Regions from separate parts of the Homo sapiens genome. Here region 2 is linked to region 1. The links come from fine-mapping of genetic effects on gene expression. A gene starts in region 1. The other region holds a variant in brackets. All regions are shown on one strand. Distances are from middle to middle.

Region 1 (8,322 bases):
CCTGCCTTGTCTCAATGGGGTCTGGGGAAGGACACTGTCAGGGAAATATGTCCAGAGGACCCCACAGTGACCCCGTCTGCCTCTGCCCTGCCCCATGGGCTCTGTCCCAGAGCAAGAGCCCCCCTCTTTTAAAGGCCCCAGGCAAGATGATTTCAGCGAAGCATTCCTGGGCCTCAGGACTCAAGGAAACTGCACCTCGAGGCATGCACCTCTGCCCCTTCCTGCTGCCTGCAAAGTCCATGGCTTCCCTGTTCACAGAAACCAGACAGACCCTACCTCTGCTGCCTGTTAGAGGCCTCTCAGCCTGGATCCGAGGCTCCAAGGCAGGGTCATCTTGATCTTCCCTTGCCTACCTGCAACCCACTCTAAAGAAAGGTAAACAGGCTGGTAGGGGCAGAAGCCTGCAAGGATACCCCTCACTTGGGACAGCCTGTCCCTCTGTGGCTCTGGGTTGGGGGGGATGTGGCAAGCTTCGTGTCACTGTGCCTGCAGCCTGGCACCTTGGCCTCTGAACCCAGGCTACCTGGGGTGGCCATGACTCAGGGATGGATTATGAGACCATCTCTTCCCTTCCTGTTGCCCAGGGTTACAGTTTCTCCCTCCTGCAGAGGCAATGCCAGCCCCACCCTGGCCGGGGCACCAGCCTAGCTTGGTTGGCCACCTGACCCGCTGGCTTAAAGGCATAGATCTTTGCTGCACCTCCACAAATTCCGAGGAGGACAGGATTATTCCCAGTGGCCCCACGCCCCCATACAAGACCCCAGGCCCAGAGCATTCCTCCAGATAGGGTCAGGAAGGGATGGGACCTACTTTTGGCACAAATGAGATGTAAATAAAATATAAATATGTATAAATAAAAGTACTTTCTGCAAACACACTGGCAGAAGAGCTGAGCAGAAAGAACTGTGGATGTGAATTTCAGCTCTAAGAGAGGGAGATGAGCCACATGGGCTACCTGAGCCTCCATTTATGGAGTGCATCGTTTACAAGAGCGAATACACCTACTTTGTGAGGCTGCTGTGAAGACTGAGCCCAGCATATCGTGATAACTAGTAGCTATTATGAAGGGATGGTCACAAGATGATGGTGGGGTACTCTAAGCTTCAGCTAGCAAAACGGGGCACCACAGCTGTGAGGACTTCAACCCCCTCGAGTGGGGAGGGAGCGCTGAGACAAGCAGAGGCAGAGAGCCCACCCTAACAGGGGATTCCAGGGGAACTGGCAGCAGACCAATCCTCTACCTCCACCTGTTTTCAGAAACCTGGGGAAGCAAGCCAGGAAAGAGGGACGTGGCGAGGTTCTTGACAACACAGCTCCCTAGATACAAAGCAGGTGCACAAAGTAGGTGCTCAATAAATATTTGTTGAATGAGCAAATGAGGTCACCCTGTTTCTCCCCCAGCTCTAATCCCAGAAGTCCTCTGGAGAAGCAAATCTCGACCTCCTTCCTCAAACACTGTCATCAGCAATACATATTTATCCAGCTTGCAAAGCATGCTGGGTACTGCAGGTTGGGGGCAGGGTGGCCTTCAGAGGTGACAAGGTTTTTACCCACCTATGCCTTTGGGAGATAAGGCTCAGGGAGGAGAAAAGGCTGAAACCAAGGACACACCCTGTGCTTTGGGCCACGTAGTGGGCTGAGTACCATGGGGGATTGTAGAGAAACGGGTGAGTCTAATTTGACTCTTTTGCTGTAAATGGGAGGCCTTGGGAAGTTGGTTAGCAACTATGGGACTGAAGCTGCCTATGGGACTGAAGGTTTCCCCTCCTCCCTGGTCACAGCCCAGCATCCTCCAGGCACTGGCTCCCCATTCCTGGTCCTATCCTTACTGCCTGGAGCAGGTGGAGAGGAATAGGTCTGATACCTGGATATTTCAGGTCTCCTGCTCAGTACAGGGGGCGAGGTCTCTCCAGGGCCACTTCCTATAGGGAGAGTTCTAAAAAGAGGAAGGAATCACCAACTCCCACTTCCCTGGGCAACCCCCACTTGAACGTCCTCTTCCAGCTAGGGTAAGAGAACTGGGGAGGGCACCCTGCCCATCCCTGCTCCCCTCCCCTCGGGTACACGGCACTGAAGGTCTTTCCAAGGGGAGTGGTGTGGAGCTGAACAGAGCATCCCAGAGAGGTAGGGAGGGCATAGTCTATACAGCACCCTCTTTAGCACTCAGGGACTTTAGTGCACTGCCCCACCTTTAAGGAAATGACATCATCATACCCATCTGACAGATGGTGAATACTGAGGCCTAGAGACATTCATAAAACTGGTGGGAGCAGACCTGGAACAAGGACCCAGTTTCCCAACTCCTGGAGTGGCAATCCTGCCTTCATGTTTTGCTTTTTCCTTATACGGGTCAAGTGCCCACTGCCTCTTCCCAATTCATGACTGTGGAGAAGAAGGGGACCACAGGGAACTCAAGATGCAGAGGCCAAAATCTCTGCCACGAGGGGCGGGCGAAACCCCAGTGTGCAAGGACAGGTACATTCTCAAGGGGAGACTTCATTATCTGATAGCTCTAAGCTCAAGTCCTGCCCAACAGCGGCTGGCATGGTCATGGGGAGATCAACAACTTTCCTCGTGCCCACAATATACCCCCTCCTCTCCTCCTGCCCAGTCAAGCCCAGGACCAGGAGGAACAGTGACACAGCAGCGGCCCCATATGCCCACACTCCCCAAGAGCAAGTTCAAATATCTTTCAGAACCTCCAACCCCACCTCCTCACGCTGACTCAGAGGCCAAAGGTCACTGAGGAAGCTCACACACCAAGGGGGAGGGGAGAGATAAGGTGTCCAATAAACTATCCTCTCCTGAACAAAACCTGGCTCCAGGTCAGTAATGAACTTGGCCCCAGGGCTCTATACCCCTCTTTCATCTAGTGTTCCCACCCTTGCACCTCTCTTCCATCCAGTCCTCCCAGCCCTCCCAGTTCAGATGGAAAGGACAGAATACTTGGACTTGGAGCCAGCTTTGGGTGGTGGATGAAAGACGCGGTGAGGAAGGGCACAAAATCACAGAGGCCTCCCCTCCAGACTGGGGAGGGGATGCAGAGGGGCAGGTTTTACCTTAGGATCTTACGGAGCTTACAAGAGAACAGGATCCTACCCTAAACTGTACGGGAAACACCCAGTTCTACTCTCCAACCCCCCTCCAAAAGTCTAATGGCAACCAGATGAACAAGTCCAGCATTGGGGAGACAGGGCCCCCAGGGGACACTGAATCTCCACAAGGCCACCCTCCCCTCCCCCCAATACCTCCCCCTTTCCTCGGCTTCCCCAGAACTCAGCCAACCCCACCCTCCATTGGAGAAACCTGCTTTGAAAAGTTAGCTCTTTGTTCTTCCACACGGTCTCCTGGCTCTGAGCACAATTTCAGGAGATCTCAGCTAAGCACCCTCCACCCACCCTACTCTGCCACCCAACCCCACCCGGCTCAGGCTGGACGGCCCAGCACCGGGAGTTGGCTTTTAATTGGAGGTGGGGGTTGGGAAGCTGTGGAGGAGGTCTGCGAGTCCTTTAACGACTGAATCCAAGGGGGTGCAGGTCGTTCAAAAACGGGGCTCTTGCGGCAGAGCCCGGGTCCTTACCCAAAACCCCCCGCATCAGATGCCACACACTCGCAGGCTGATAGCCCCCGCCCCGCCAGGCCAGGAAGCCAGGCCACCCCCGCCGGAGCGGACGGTTTTGCAGGGCCCCCCAGCCTCTGCCCCGCCCCCCCGCCCCCTCCACCAGCGCCCCGCGCTTCCGCCTACTTGGCGCTCGGCGCAGAGCGGAGAGGGAGCGGCCGTCTCTTCTCACTCTCCAGGCCGTAGGGGGCGGGACTGCACCCCTAACCTTCCCCCAACACACCCCGGCGCCTGACTTCCCTGCTCCTCTCCCGTCCTCCCAACCCCGGGACACAGAGCCCACCCCTCTCCAGCAGCGGCTGCCCGCTACGCGTGGACTTCCCGCCTCGCCCCAGATCTCCTGGTTTTCAGACTGGGATGTGTCCCCACACCCCATGACACCGCCCGCTCGCCCTCCCTCCATTCTCCTGGGATCGCGGGGATAAGGCGGCAAAGACCCGGCCCTTCTCTCCTCCCTGGATTCGGAGCACTGCGGGGGATTGCAAAGACGCGTCTCCCGGTCCCGGGCTCACCTTATCCAGACAGTTCACCTTCTCCGTGGGATACACGATCTTGCCGCACCGGGCGCAGTTGGGGTTCATGGTTCCGAGAAAAGCTGGGGCGGGGACGCCTGAGCTCACGCGCGTCCTGTTCCCCGAGGCGAGCTGGCGGGAGGCGGCCGCGGCTGCAACTACACAGGCAGCAGCGACGGCGGCTGGAGCTGGGGAACTGGCCTCCGCCTCCGCCCTCCTTCCCCTAATAAACACAGCGGGGAGGAGGGGCTGCACTGGGGCGGGCACGCGCCTCGGGCGCGGGCAAGGGCACGCGCAGCGAGGCGCGCTCTCCGGGCGACGTGGGGCTGCGCGGGGGCGGGTTCCTGGGGGGACGGCGGGGCCCGCGGTGCTGGCGCCTCAGCGCTCTCAGGCTGACTGCGCCCGGTGCCCAGGGCCCTTCCCCAGCCGGAGGCGGCGCAGAGGCGAGCAGGCTGCACATCTGGGGCGCCCGGGCTGCGGGAGGCGGGCTAACCCCTCAAGCCCGTCGAGGGTGGGGTTGGATCCTCCTGAACGCTGGAACTGATTCACCGCATTCGGGGACTTTCTACCCGGCATGAATCTGCGGACCGAACGGGGACCCCCTACCCTGCCCCTCTTAGCTCTCTTCCGGCCCACACCCTTTCCCACATTTGTGGGGCGGAACCCGTCCCTCCCTCTTGGACCCTGCGCGCTGCCGGGCCCGGGCTAGTGCTTCCCTCTCGAGCCCCTGCAGTGCACCTTCCCGGGGTTCCCCGGATGCGGGCACCGTCTGCGTTCAGCTTGACCCCTTTTTCTCCAGCATTCCTTTCTCCTTCTGTTACACCACTACTCACAGTGTAGCAGCTGCAACAATGCTTAGCACCCAAGGAGCCGCCTCCAGGCGCTGTAGAGGCGCGGGGGTATAGCTCAGTGGTAGAGCATTTGACTGCAGATCAAGAGGTCCCTGGTTCAAATCCGGGTGCCCCCTCAATGGCTTGGTTTTTCCTTCCCCTTGTTAACCATCTGTTTTTCATTCTTGACTCACATTTTAACATTGGGTCCTGACTAAAAAAAAAAAAAAAAAGAAAAGAAAAAGTATCTTCCTCATTTTTCAACCTTAGCAGAAATCTTTCGGTTTTACTTTGTGCTCAGCGGGAGGAGGGGGTGGGTATAAAAGCTGCGCGACCGCATTACTCGCGCCAGAGGTGTAGGGATTTCTGCGGCCACGGGCGCCAGCCTCAGATGGGTCAGACAGTTCGAGGTGCCGGGTTTGAGGGACAGGATGTTTCCAATGGGGGTAGGGAGACAGGGGAACGCCTCAACTTGGCGTTCCTTTTGGGGGTGGAGGGTGGGTCAGGCGAGGGAAACCCATAGACACAGCCCTTCTCCAACTTCAACTTTCTGTATTAATGGTGACATGGACGTGCTGTGTTCATCCTTGACTATTAATGTACAAAAGTAAAGTTATAACCCAGTGCAAACTGAGATAAACGAACACAGTGTTTCTCAAATTTGAACGTGCATCAGAATTACCTGCAGGGCTTGTTAAAACACTGCTAGTTTCTGATTCTGTAAGGGGGCCCCGAGAATTTGCATTTCTACCAAGTTTCCAGGTGCCTCTGGTGCTGCTGGTGTGGGGACCACATTTTAAGAACCACTGAAGTAAGAATAAAAGGCCATGGAGTTTCATAACCTAAAGATGGGGACAAGTATCTGCTGGCTGCGTGCCTGACAGGGTCACTGTTGGGCCGGAGGAAAATGGTAAGTGTGACGGGAGACAAGGGCGTCCCCCTCGACTAGGTTTTGCCCAAAAAAAGGAAAAATAAAGGAGAAAGGAAGAGGCGTGCTGCCTGGGTCAAAGGGCAGCTGCGATATTTTAAACCCGGAATGTGGTTGTGTCATTCCTCGGACCCCGGGGAAACGCGCATTTTTTTCTCCTGGCTCCTATTACTGTGAGCTGTATCTCTAGGCTGAACAGAGAGATCACAGATCAGCAGAGCTGCGGTTCCGTGCAAAACCCAGGAGGAACCAGTTTTACCTCTCCTTTAGGCCTTGAACTTTCCATGTATAGCTTATCAAGCCAAAGCCCTGCCTATGAGCTGAGTCAAGAAGGAAGAGGGGAAAATTGCTCGCTGTCTACCTTCTATCTGTGTGCCCTGTCCTGTTCGAGTTCGCGAGTATATGAAAACCTCTGAATTTGGATTACTTCTCCTAGTTTTCATAGTCAAGTACGAACTACTGCCCCGTCCAAGACATATTTTTTACCCCAAAACAAATTATAATTAACGTTAAACCAATGGGCATCGGAGATGGAAATCGATACGCGCCTTTGTTCTCCAACTGAGAGTACTGGTGCGCTTATCGCCACTTGGGGTATGAGGGCTCAGATCCACCTAAAGGCAGCCTCTGGTTGCTGTTCTCTCCCTCTAGGGTACGGGAATCCTTTCAAGGTGAAAATTAGGTAGGTGGAAGATACAAACGACACCTCCCGTGAGTTTTGCATTCAGAACTCGCTGACTCAGGTTATTCCTGGATGGCTGTGAAAAAAACTTAAAGAAACCCGAGGGGGCACCCGGATTTGAACCGGGGACCTCTTGATCTGCAGTCAAATGCTCTACCACTGAGCTATACCCCCTCTGGCGGTGGCTCTCTGGTAAATTGTTTTTACATCGATTGATCCCAAAATTTTCATACTTTCACCATTCGTTCAAAATTAGTGTCTCTTTGCTAGATTATACTGAAATTACCAATGAGGAAGGAGAAATTAAAAGACTAGGCCAAGATAGGCCGGGCACAGTGGCTCACGCCTGTAATCCCCAGCACTTTGGGAGGCCGCGTCGGGCGGATCACGAGGTCAGGAGTTCGAGACCAGACTGACCAAGATGGTGAAACCCACCCCCCCCCCCCCCACCTCCGTCTCTACTAAAAATACAAAAAATTAGCCGGTAGCGGTGGCGGGAGCCTGTAGTCCCAGCTACTCAGGAGGCTAAGACAGGAGAATTGCTGCAACCCAGAACCCAGGAGGCGGGGGTTGCAGTGAGCCGAGATCATGCCACTGTACTCCAGCCTGGGCGACACAGCGAGACTCCATCTAAAAAAAAAAAAAAGGCTAGGCCAAGACGTGGTGGCAGTTTGAAAAGCGTGTGAATTTAGGTGCCAATCTGCTTTGTCTAGGTTCAGTTCTTTTTTTTTTTTTTTCTCCAGACGGAGTCTTCCTCTGTAACCCAGGCTGGAGTGAGTGCAGTGGCGCAATCTCGGCCTCCCGGATTCAAGCGATTCTCCTGCCTCAGCCTCCCGAGTAGCTGGGATTACAGGCGCCCGCCACCGCGCCCAGCTAATTTTTGTATTTTTAGTAGAGATGAGTGTTCCACCATGTTGGCTAGGCTGGTCTCGAACTTCTGACTTCATGATCTGCCCGCCTTGGCCTCCCGAAGTGCTGGGATTACAGGCATGAGCCACCGCACCCCTGCTTGGTTCAATTTTTGTTTGTTTGTTTGTTTGTTTTCCATTTTGTGGAGATGGGGGCAGGTGGTGGGTGAAGGAGGCCGTCTCCCTATGTTGCCCAGAGACGGAATTTCGCTCTCCTTGATCAGTCGGGATTGCAATAGTGCGATCTCGGCTCACCGCAACCTGTGCCCCCCAGGTTCAAGCAATTCTCCTGCCTCAGCCTCCCGAGTAGCTGGGATTACAGGCATGCACCACCACGTCTGGCTAATTTTGTATTTTTAGTAGAGACGGGGTTTCTCCATGTTGGACAGGCTGGCCTTGAACTCCCGATCTCAGGTGATCTGCCCACCTTGGCCTTCCAAAGTGCTGGGATTACAGGCGTGAGCCACCACACTCGGCCTAGGCTCAATTCTTTATCCACAATCCCACTCATCTCTCCCCGCTAGCAAGTCAGAGAACAACCTCCTGCAAAACTGGATAAAGTTTTTCCTTGGTCTCTCCAAAAAGAATACGAACACGCCATTGCACTCCAGCCTGGGCAACAAGTTTCGCTCTCAACAAGAGCGAAACTCCGTTGCAAAAAAGAAAAAAAAAAAAAACTAAGTAAGAAAGAAATCCTGCAATATGCAATAACGTGGATGAACCTTGAGGATATTATGCTAAGTGAAGCAGGCCAGTTACAGAAGACCAAATACTGCATGATTCCACTTATATGAGGTTTCTAACATAGTCAGACTCCCAGAAGCAGAGAGTAGAACGATTGTT
Region 2 (8,322 bases), 25 kb before region 1:
ACAGGCTGCTTGCCTGTGGCTCTGCCAAGCAGGAAACTGAGGCCTGTTCTCTGGCCACAGGTGCCATGGAGGGCACACGATGCTGGGGACAGTTGATCCCCTGCCCACTCTCCATGCCCACCCCTGCCACAGCCAGATGCCACTGACCATCAGGGAGGCGGGGGGTGTGAGCCAGGGGGTGCAGGGCTGGCGGGTGAAGCTGGCTGGGGTTTTTACACAGGAAGGAAGAGCAGGCTGATGTGGGGGAGGAGGCCAAGGAAGGGCGGAAATGACTGCAATGTCAGCACCCAGGCGCAGACCAGGGGAGGCCAGGTGCTCCCCGCCCCCCAGTTTTGACCTTTGTGCTAAGATGAGACATGCAGTCTTCACCGATACCCACGATATCCAGAAAAAAGAACAACAGTCAGAGAGAGTGGGGGCTGATTTAGCACACAGGCCCCCACAGAATACAGTCCCTTCAAGAAGAAAATGCTATGCGTGCTGGTGGTCTGGGGGTACACAGAGAAGAGGCATCTGGGAACCCCAAGCTCTTCCCCAGGCCCACCCTGGAGGGCAGGGGTAGTGGAGGCACTGGCCTCATTCACATCTGCCAGGCTTGCGTCTGCCAGGCTGGCAGGAAGGGGACCAAACAGAGGGCAGCAGGGATGCCGCAGGGCAGGGCAAGAGCTCACGTTACTGATCTGGTCCTGGGTCTTCTTGATTCTCTGGAGCTCGGGCGTGTCTGCCACTACGCTGAAACCTTTGCCCTTGTTCTTCTCAAACTCCTCCTTGTAGCGCACCTGCAGGAGGGGAGGAAGAGGGATTGGAGTCAGGCCAGGAGCCGAAAGGGCCTCGGCTTGGGGCCCCTCTGAGGCAGCAACCAGTCAGGAGACAGGGACAGGGAGTCAGCAGAAAGACCCTGATCAGAAGTCCCCAACTCAAAGCAGAGGCCTCAGCCAAAAGGTGTTAGACTCGTAATAATAAGCCACTACCAAGTCTTTGGTGCACAGTGAATGGCAGGCACAGAGTCCAGGGCCTTACATGAACCATCTCATTTAGATCCCACCATACATATAGCCACGCAATTAACAGCTCCAATTTACGGATCAGGAAACGGAGCCACAGAAAGGCAAAGTCCCCTGCCCAAGGTCACAGAGCTTAGCAGTCAATGTCCGGCACTACCAGAGTGCAAACCCTCATCTGCCTGACTCTTGACCCTTCACTCCCTGCCCATCCTGTCTGGAAGCTTATAGGAAAAAGGTTCTTTCCAGGGCTCCCAGGGTGGCCCCAGCCCTCATGTTAGCCAGGATGTGGCCCTGCCCACTACGCCTGGGGGAGCTTTTCAGCAACCAGCTGAGTGAGGGCTGTGCCAAAGGACAGAGTTGGTGCCCAGAAAGGAGGGTGGTGAGACAGCCCCAGGGAAGGCTCCATCAGTGCGCCTTTGACAGGCCCCGCGGATTCTGGGAGCCTGCCGGGATGGCTTCAGAGGCCACCGCCATAGGAGGGGAGGAAAGCAGCGGGGGTCAGACAGCATCTCAGCAGGTCTCCAAGCTCCAGGGAAGAACCCTTCCACCCCACCACAGTACTAGAGGGACTCAAGTCAGACATCAGAAAGGACTTCCCTGGCACGAAAGGAATTGAAATATGAGGAACAGCTTGTCCTCCCCTGAGGGTTTTGAAGAACAGAATGAGGCTGAGAAAACTCATGGAACAGGAAACTATTCCTTGGCTTCCAGAGACTTCACTGTCCACCTCATCAGCCATCTGTTCCAGACCCCACCAGCTGCTTGGATTTCCTCCACGGGGGCTGCACTGTCCTGGACACAGGTCAGCCCAGGACACAAACCCAGGCAGTTCCCTGGCAGGGAATCATCTGGCAGCAGCACCGAGCTGTGCTTGGACTGGAGCGACTGCGCATGCGCATGCAGCCACGGCCACACCTGTCAGGTCCTCTGCACATGCCTGTGGGGGTCAGAGTCCTTGTTTGTCTCCTGAAGCCCCCAGTCACTCATCCATGTGGTTCCCTCTCCTTCTCTGTTCTGATCCAGACAAGAAGGGCTTGGATGTGCTGTTCCCCATTAGTTCAGAAGTGAATGCAGTGGATAGAGGCACCAACCCACCCCAAGAGTCCAGAACCTGCCTAGCACCAGCTCTTCCTCAGTCCTGGAAGCCCTGGGCCAGCACGGTGACTCTTAGTGGGAGGCCCTTTGGGAAGCGGGCATCGGGGAAGGTAGGGCACTCAGAGGCAGAGAAATGTAGCTCCAGATACAGAAGCCCTGCATCTCAAGCCCCTGGCCTCGGTTTCTTCATCTGTAAAAGAGTTGTGACAGAAATCAGGTATAATATGGGGAGGGGGCTTCTTATCACCAAGTCTGGGCACAAAGCCAGGCGGAGCTAGCACTAACGCAGGCTCAGTCTCCCACTTCTGAGTGATCTTGGGCCAACGACTTCACATCTCAAGACTCAGTTCCCACATCTGTAAAATGGGGACCATAACGCCAGTCACTCCAACCCACGATACAGACAGTGGCTCTAAAGCAGCAGCGCACTGTGGAGGGCCAGTGTGAAAGTGCTCTGTCAGCAATGAAGTGCTGAACGAGTGCCAGTCCCCCACTCCGTCCCCTGCTTCCTGGCTTTGCAAGGGTCAGGCCCCTAATCCAGGGGAATAATCGCCATGGCGACGCTGCAATGACATCAGCAGGTTCCCAGGATCGGGAACTGCTTCTGCCTCCCCCTCCCTGTTGGGGAAGGATCATTCATTTCACTGCTAACATAGGAGGCCCACAGAGGGTAGGGGTGAGGGGTAGGGGCTGAGAAGGGAGGGAGCCTGGGATCAGCACCACCTTGCTGTGTGTTTCTAAGCAAGTCAGTTCCCCTCTCTGGGTCCCCTGAAGGGAGCTGGCTAGCTGATCTCTAAAATCCCTCCCATTTGGAGTCTGTGACCATTTTAAAGCACCTTCAGACCCTGACTATGGATAATCAAGACAGGGAGGCTCTTTGAAAGGTCTTTGGGTATGGAAGGGGTGGCAGAAGTGAAGGGTGGGGGGCCAGGGGTGTAGGGAGGGCCCAGCCCAGAGCCCCTCTTCAGGGCTCCCTTCTTGCCCTGGCAGGAGTGCTTGCCCCTGTTGTCTAGGATGGCTCACCAGGGTGCTGTGGGGGTCCCTGTGGAGGAAGGGACCTGCCCAAGGTCACAACCCAGTTGTCGCTCAGGCCAGGATGCAACTCAGCGCTTCGGTCAGAGGACCCCACTTCTGGGAGATGCCTGGGCTCCCAGAGGACCCCACTCCTGGGAGATACCTGGGCTCCCATTTTGGAAACTCTGCTGTCAGGCCCAGGACTGACTGACATCTGAGGCTCCTGACACCCAAACAACCACCATCCGTGAAACTCTAATTTTTCTGTCAGTTCTTAGTTGTTCTCCCTGGATCTATCTTGCTTCTCATCCCAGCAGACAGGAGGTGCAGATCAACATTTGTTGGATCATGAATGAATTGAATGCAGACACGTAATCTCCAAACAAAGCAGCATAATTGGGAAAACAACTGCCTTGATGACCCAATATAAGAAGAAGGATCATTACTTAAAAACAAAAATTATGCCAGGCACGGTGGCTCACGCCTGTAATCCCACCACTTTGGGAGGCAGAGGTGGGTGGATCACCTGAGGTCAGGAGTTCATGACCAGCCTAACATGCTGAAACCCCATCTCTACTAAAAAAAATACAAAAAAAGTTAGCCGGG[C/T]GTGGTGGGCGTAATCCCAGCTACTTGGGAGGCTGAGGCAGGAGAATTCCTTGAACCTGGGAGCCGGAGGTTGCAGTGAGCTGAGATGGTGACACTGTACTCCAGGCTGGGCGACAGAGTAAAACTCCGTCTAAAAAAAAAACACAAAAATTAGGCTGGACTTAAAAAACAAAATGGCTCATGTCTGTAATCCCAGCAGTCTAGGAGGCCAAGACAGGTGGATCACTCGAGCCCAGGAGTTCGAGACCAGCCTGGGAACATAGTACCCCATCTCTATTTAAAAAAAAAAAAAATTAATAAAAATCTCTAAAAAAATACAAAATTTATTGAGCGAAATACAATTTCCACTATTATGTGCCTACCATGTGTTGGGCCAACATACTTTGTAACCCATCCCCTTCTAACAAAAAAGAAACACTAGTTTTTAAAATTTAGGCAGGGCGCGGTGGCTGACACCTGTAATCCCAGCACTTTGGGAGGCTGAGGTGGGCAGATCACTTGAGGTCAGGAGTTTGAAACAAGCCTGGGCAACATGACGAAACCCTGTCTCTACTAAAAATACAAAAATTAGCCGGGCATGGTGATGCACGCCTGTAGTCCCAGCTATTCAGGAGGTGGAGGCGAGAAAATCGCTTGAGTCTGGGAAGTCAAGGCTGCAATGAGCCAAGATCACGCCACTGCATTCCAGCCTGGGAGACAGAGAGAGACCCTGTCTCAAAAAAATACAAATTTAAAAAAAAAATTAGACACACACAGATGGAGAGGAGAGCTGATGGAAAGGGCCGGGGCTGGAAGTCATGGTCAAAAGGTTGCTGTGTGTATTTCCCAGCTTCTTCATGTCCAAGTTCCATTTCCTCTCCTTTCCGGGAGAACAGTAGTAGCAAACACTGAATGCTGACTCCACGTCAGGAATCTTTAAATGCTTAACATATCCTCCTATCTCACACCACCCTCTGGAGAGAGGTAATCCACATTATTCAGACGAAGGCACTGTGCACAGAGGTTAAGCAACTTGCCCAAGGTCACACAGCTGGTGGCAGCAGATGCGAGATTCAATCTCAGGCCAGCTAGTTCGGGTAAGAGTGATACTCTACCACCCGTGCTGCTTACAAGATCCGAGGAGGATAGAAACCCCCCTGTAATTTCCCATGACCCCATCAAGGTGAGTTGATGAAGGAAAAAATGGAAGAACAGTCTACTGGCACTTGGCACTTCTGCCTGGGCTCAGGGCCATACAGACACCTCCAGCTCAGTCCCACCCCAAAGCCACTGCCTCTGCTCAGCCTGGGGGTGGGATAGGAGCAGCAAGTGAGAAGGGGGGCTGGGGGTCCAGCTGCCAGCCCCCTGCCTCAGCCAGGCCTGGGCAGGACCACCGAGAGGGTCATTTCTGGACAGTTCTGTGGTTACCTCCTCCACAGGGGAGGCTCCAGGTGTCCCAGACACCCAAAGTGCCATTTTGGAGACCAATATAGAGATGGGAAAATAAATAAAGCTGAAATAGCCTGGGCAGCTTCCCAGAGACAGGGAAGGGCAAGGCAGGCCCAGAAGGGGCATGGAGAGAAGCCAGCTGACCCCGTGGGGTGAAGCTGGGTGAGCAGAAGAGGCTCCCCCTTCCCTTCCTGCTAGCCGCAGGCAGCTCTCTCCAGCTCTGCCCCCACGGCAGCCACAGGAACCAGAACCCGTCACTGCTCCAGCCTGGCCGGCTCAGCCCTTCCAAGCCTCAAAGCATCAGGCCCAGCCCCCAGCTTGAGGCAACTGGGTTTGCTGTCCTCATTTTACTGGTGAGGAAGCAAAGCTATGAGAGGAAAGACAGTCTGAGGCCAGTCTCAGACCACACAGCTGGTGGGCGGTGGGAAGGGAGACAGAACAGGCCTGCAAAAAGGGCAGTACCCTTTCCTCCCCTGCCTATCCTGCCCTCAGCCCCCAACCCCCGAGGACCCCCACCTCAGGGGAACAGAGCCGTGCCCTTAGTGCAAAGCCCTACCCTAATGTGGCACCCCTCAGAGCATACAAACAGGGTCGGTACACTCCTGCCCATGGACCCATCTCTAAGCTTCTTAAAGTGGGGCCAAAAGTCCTTATCAGAATCACGGGGGAGTCAAAATGCAGATTCTTGGGCCTCACCCAGAGCTGCCAAGCAGAAGTCCCTTGGGTGGGGCCTAGGAATCTGCATTCCAACAAGCCCATCCTACTTGCTGCTGACTGGTGCATCCTGCAGGGTGGGAGCACAGGGCTCGGTGCCTGTGCCATCAGCACTGTTCAGAGCAACGGGCTCCAGGGCCAGGTCATGGGACTTGATGTCTGCCCCTGTCCCTGGGCTCTGCACAAGCAGGGCAGCCTCTGTAAACCTCAGTTTCCCTATCTGTATGATGGGGATAATAAGAGCCCCTCTTTCATCAGGTGGCTGTAAGGATTAAACAAAGTCAGGCATACACGCATACATGCGTGCATGCTTGCACACACACACACACACATACACGCGTGCATGCGTGCACACGCACACACACACACATACACACACGGACACGCTCTGGCCCTCAGTGAGGCCCTAATGAAGAGTGACCGCCATTTTCATCTCCCAAGAGGCCCCCCCGGGAACCCAGCAGGCTATGACCCTGGGAAGCAGGGGGCACAGGCCAGGGACAGGAGCCCCCAAACCCAGAGCGTGGTGCTGGCTTCCCCTGTGGGGGGCAGAAGCAGCCCCTGCCAACAGCATGCCCTGCCCACTTGCTGCCCATCCTGGGCAGGGGGAACAACGTGGAGGTGCTTCCTCCTCAAACCCCACCCCTCGGGGATAGGGTGCCGGGGCAAAAAGAGCTGCAGCCACGCTTTTGTGGAACTGACAAAGGCTGAGGGGTTTGAATTTCTCCCCTGAGAAGGGTGTGTGTGTGTGTGTGTGTGTGTGTGTGTGTGTGTGTGTCTCCAAAGACCTGCTATCTGCTCCCAGCACCTCTTCTCCGAGGTCCTTCTGAGCCCCTCCACCTCTGGCCCCCATGGCCCTTCCACAGGGCAGGGAATTGAAGGCAGGAGTCAGGGCCTGGCTAGAATCTGTAAAATATGGCCAGGCAGGCTGTGGTGTTCCCTGCTTCCTAGTAACTTCAGCTTCTGTGCCGCAGGTGGGTGGGTGGCAGGTGTGAGCTGCTGCTCTCTTCCTCTGTGAGCCTCAGGCCCTACCAGGGCTGTGCAGCATCAAGGGCCCCAGACTTGGGAGTGACAAGACCAGGGCCCAAATCCTGGATCCGCATTCACTCACTCGGTTCCCCTATCTGTAAGACAGAGACGCTGGGTCTTTTACCTTCTCCCAGAACCCAGTCAAGGATAAACAGGGGAACTAACTAAAGGCACTTGCTGAACTACACAATTTCTTGCTTTTCCTTTTTTTAGAGACAGGGTCTCACCCCATCACCCAGGCTGGAGTGTAGTGGTGCGATCATGGCTCACTGCAGCCTCCAACTCCTCAGCTCAAGTGATACTCCCGCCTCAAACTCCCAAGTAGCTACGACCACAGGTGCACACCACCATCTCTGCTCGTTTTTTTTTTTAGGGACCAGGTATTGCTATGTTGCCCCAGCTGGTCTCGAACTCCTGGGCTCAAGTGATCCTCTTACCTTGGCCTCCCAGAGCACAGGGATTACAGGCGTGAGCCATGGCTCCCAGCCCTAAACTACAAAACTTCTCAACAGCATAAGGAACTATCATGTTTATTATTAAGGTAGAGACTGTTTCTTGGGGAGTGGATAGTCCCTGGGTTAGACAAACCTACATTCAAAGCTGCCAGTGTCTATTTCCTCTTCTCTGAAGTGAAGTGATGCTACAGCTGCACAGGGCTGGGTGAGGATTAAACGAGCTCACACGCCGGGAGCACTGAGCCCTCCATCGTCAGCTGTGAATATTATTATTGCCTCTCCTACCCGCAGGACCTCAGCTAGTCCCTCAAAGTCGCTGGGCCTCAGTCGCCTCATCTGTAACAATGGGGAAGATAGCACCTTCCTCACAGGGCTGCTGGGAGGATGCTGAGAGAGGGTGCATGGAAAGCCTGACAAAAGGCAGGGTCGGTTCTCCCTGATGGACCCGGGCAGTCACATCAAGATCAGGCAGCAGGAGTCCCCTCTGGAGGAACTGGGAGAGATCCCCTCTGTGGCCCGGGTGGAACCTCTGCAGTCTTCTCCCGATCCTGAGTGGGTCCTGGGCGCGCTGCCCACGTGGTAAATTCCCCTACATGTATTCTCGCGCCTAATCCTTCATCGGCTGAAGCCCCGCCCCACCCCACCCCACCTCATCACTGGCCAGGTTTGTCCCAGGAGCCCTCGCACCCCCAGGCAGGGTGGGTCAGCTGTTCTGTTCTCAGGACTCCAGACCCTTTGCTTATTCCTCCGTGTCCCCTAAAGACCAAGTTCTCCCTAGGCCTGGAACCCGTCCTCCCCTCCTACAGGGGCACATACCTCCCACTCAGCAGTGTTCTGGAAAGTCAAGCCAAAGGAGACAGAGGCGGAACAGCCCCCTATCCTGTGCCCCCATGGCAGGGCCCCCTTCACACCTTGCCCTTCAGTGGGTGGAGGTTTGGGACGCGGCTATAGAGGGTTGGTTGCCCAGCCTCAGACTG

The links. PIP is the estimated chance that this variant, and not a neighbour inherited with it, causes the effect.
Region 2: its variant is fine-mapped to the expression of LASP1 in blood mononuclear cells (TOPMed, PIP 0.97).

The regions. Positions count from the first base shown.
Region 1 is chr17:38,866,068-38,874,389 of GRCh38, reverse strand. It overlaps LASP1 (LIM and SH3 protein 1), which reads right to left and starts at 4,332. Exons shown (of 7, transcript NM_006148.4): 1 at 4,132-4,332. The coding sequence starts at 4,200. It overlaps TRC-GCA2-2 (tRNA-Cys (anticodon GCA) 2-2), which reads right to left and starts at 6,745; the gene lies at 6,674-6,745. It overlaps TRC-GCA4-1 (tRNA-Cys (anticodon GCA) 4-1), which reads left to right and starts at 5,027; the gene lies at 5,027-5,098. RefSeq lists enhancers at 2,469-3,070, 4,083-4,232, 5,723-5,902, 5,478-6,078, 6,079-6,681, silencers at 3,673-3,772, 4,293-4,602, 6,023-6,122 and a cis regulatory region at 6,340-6,953.
Region 2 is chr17:38,890,869-38,899,190 of GRCh38, reverse strand. LASP1 (LIM and SH3 protein 1) reads right to left here. Exons shown (of 7, transcript NM_006148.4): 4 at 672-779. Among named protein-coding and RNA genes, the nearest start is that of MIR6779, 20 kb to the left of the region's middle. RefSeq lists enhancers at 1-317, 1-499, 728-837, 2,066-2,587, 2,588-3,109 and 2 more. The variant C/T (reference allele first, on the strand shown) is at 3,720.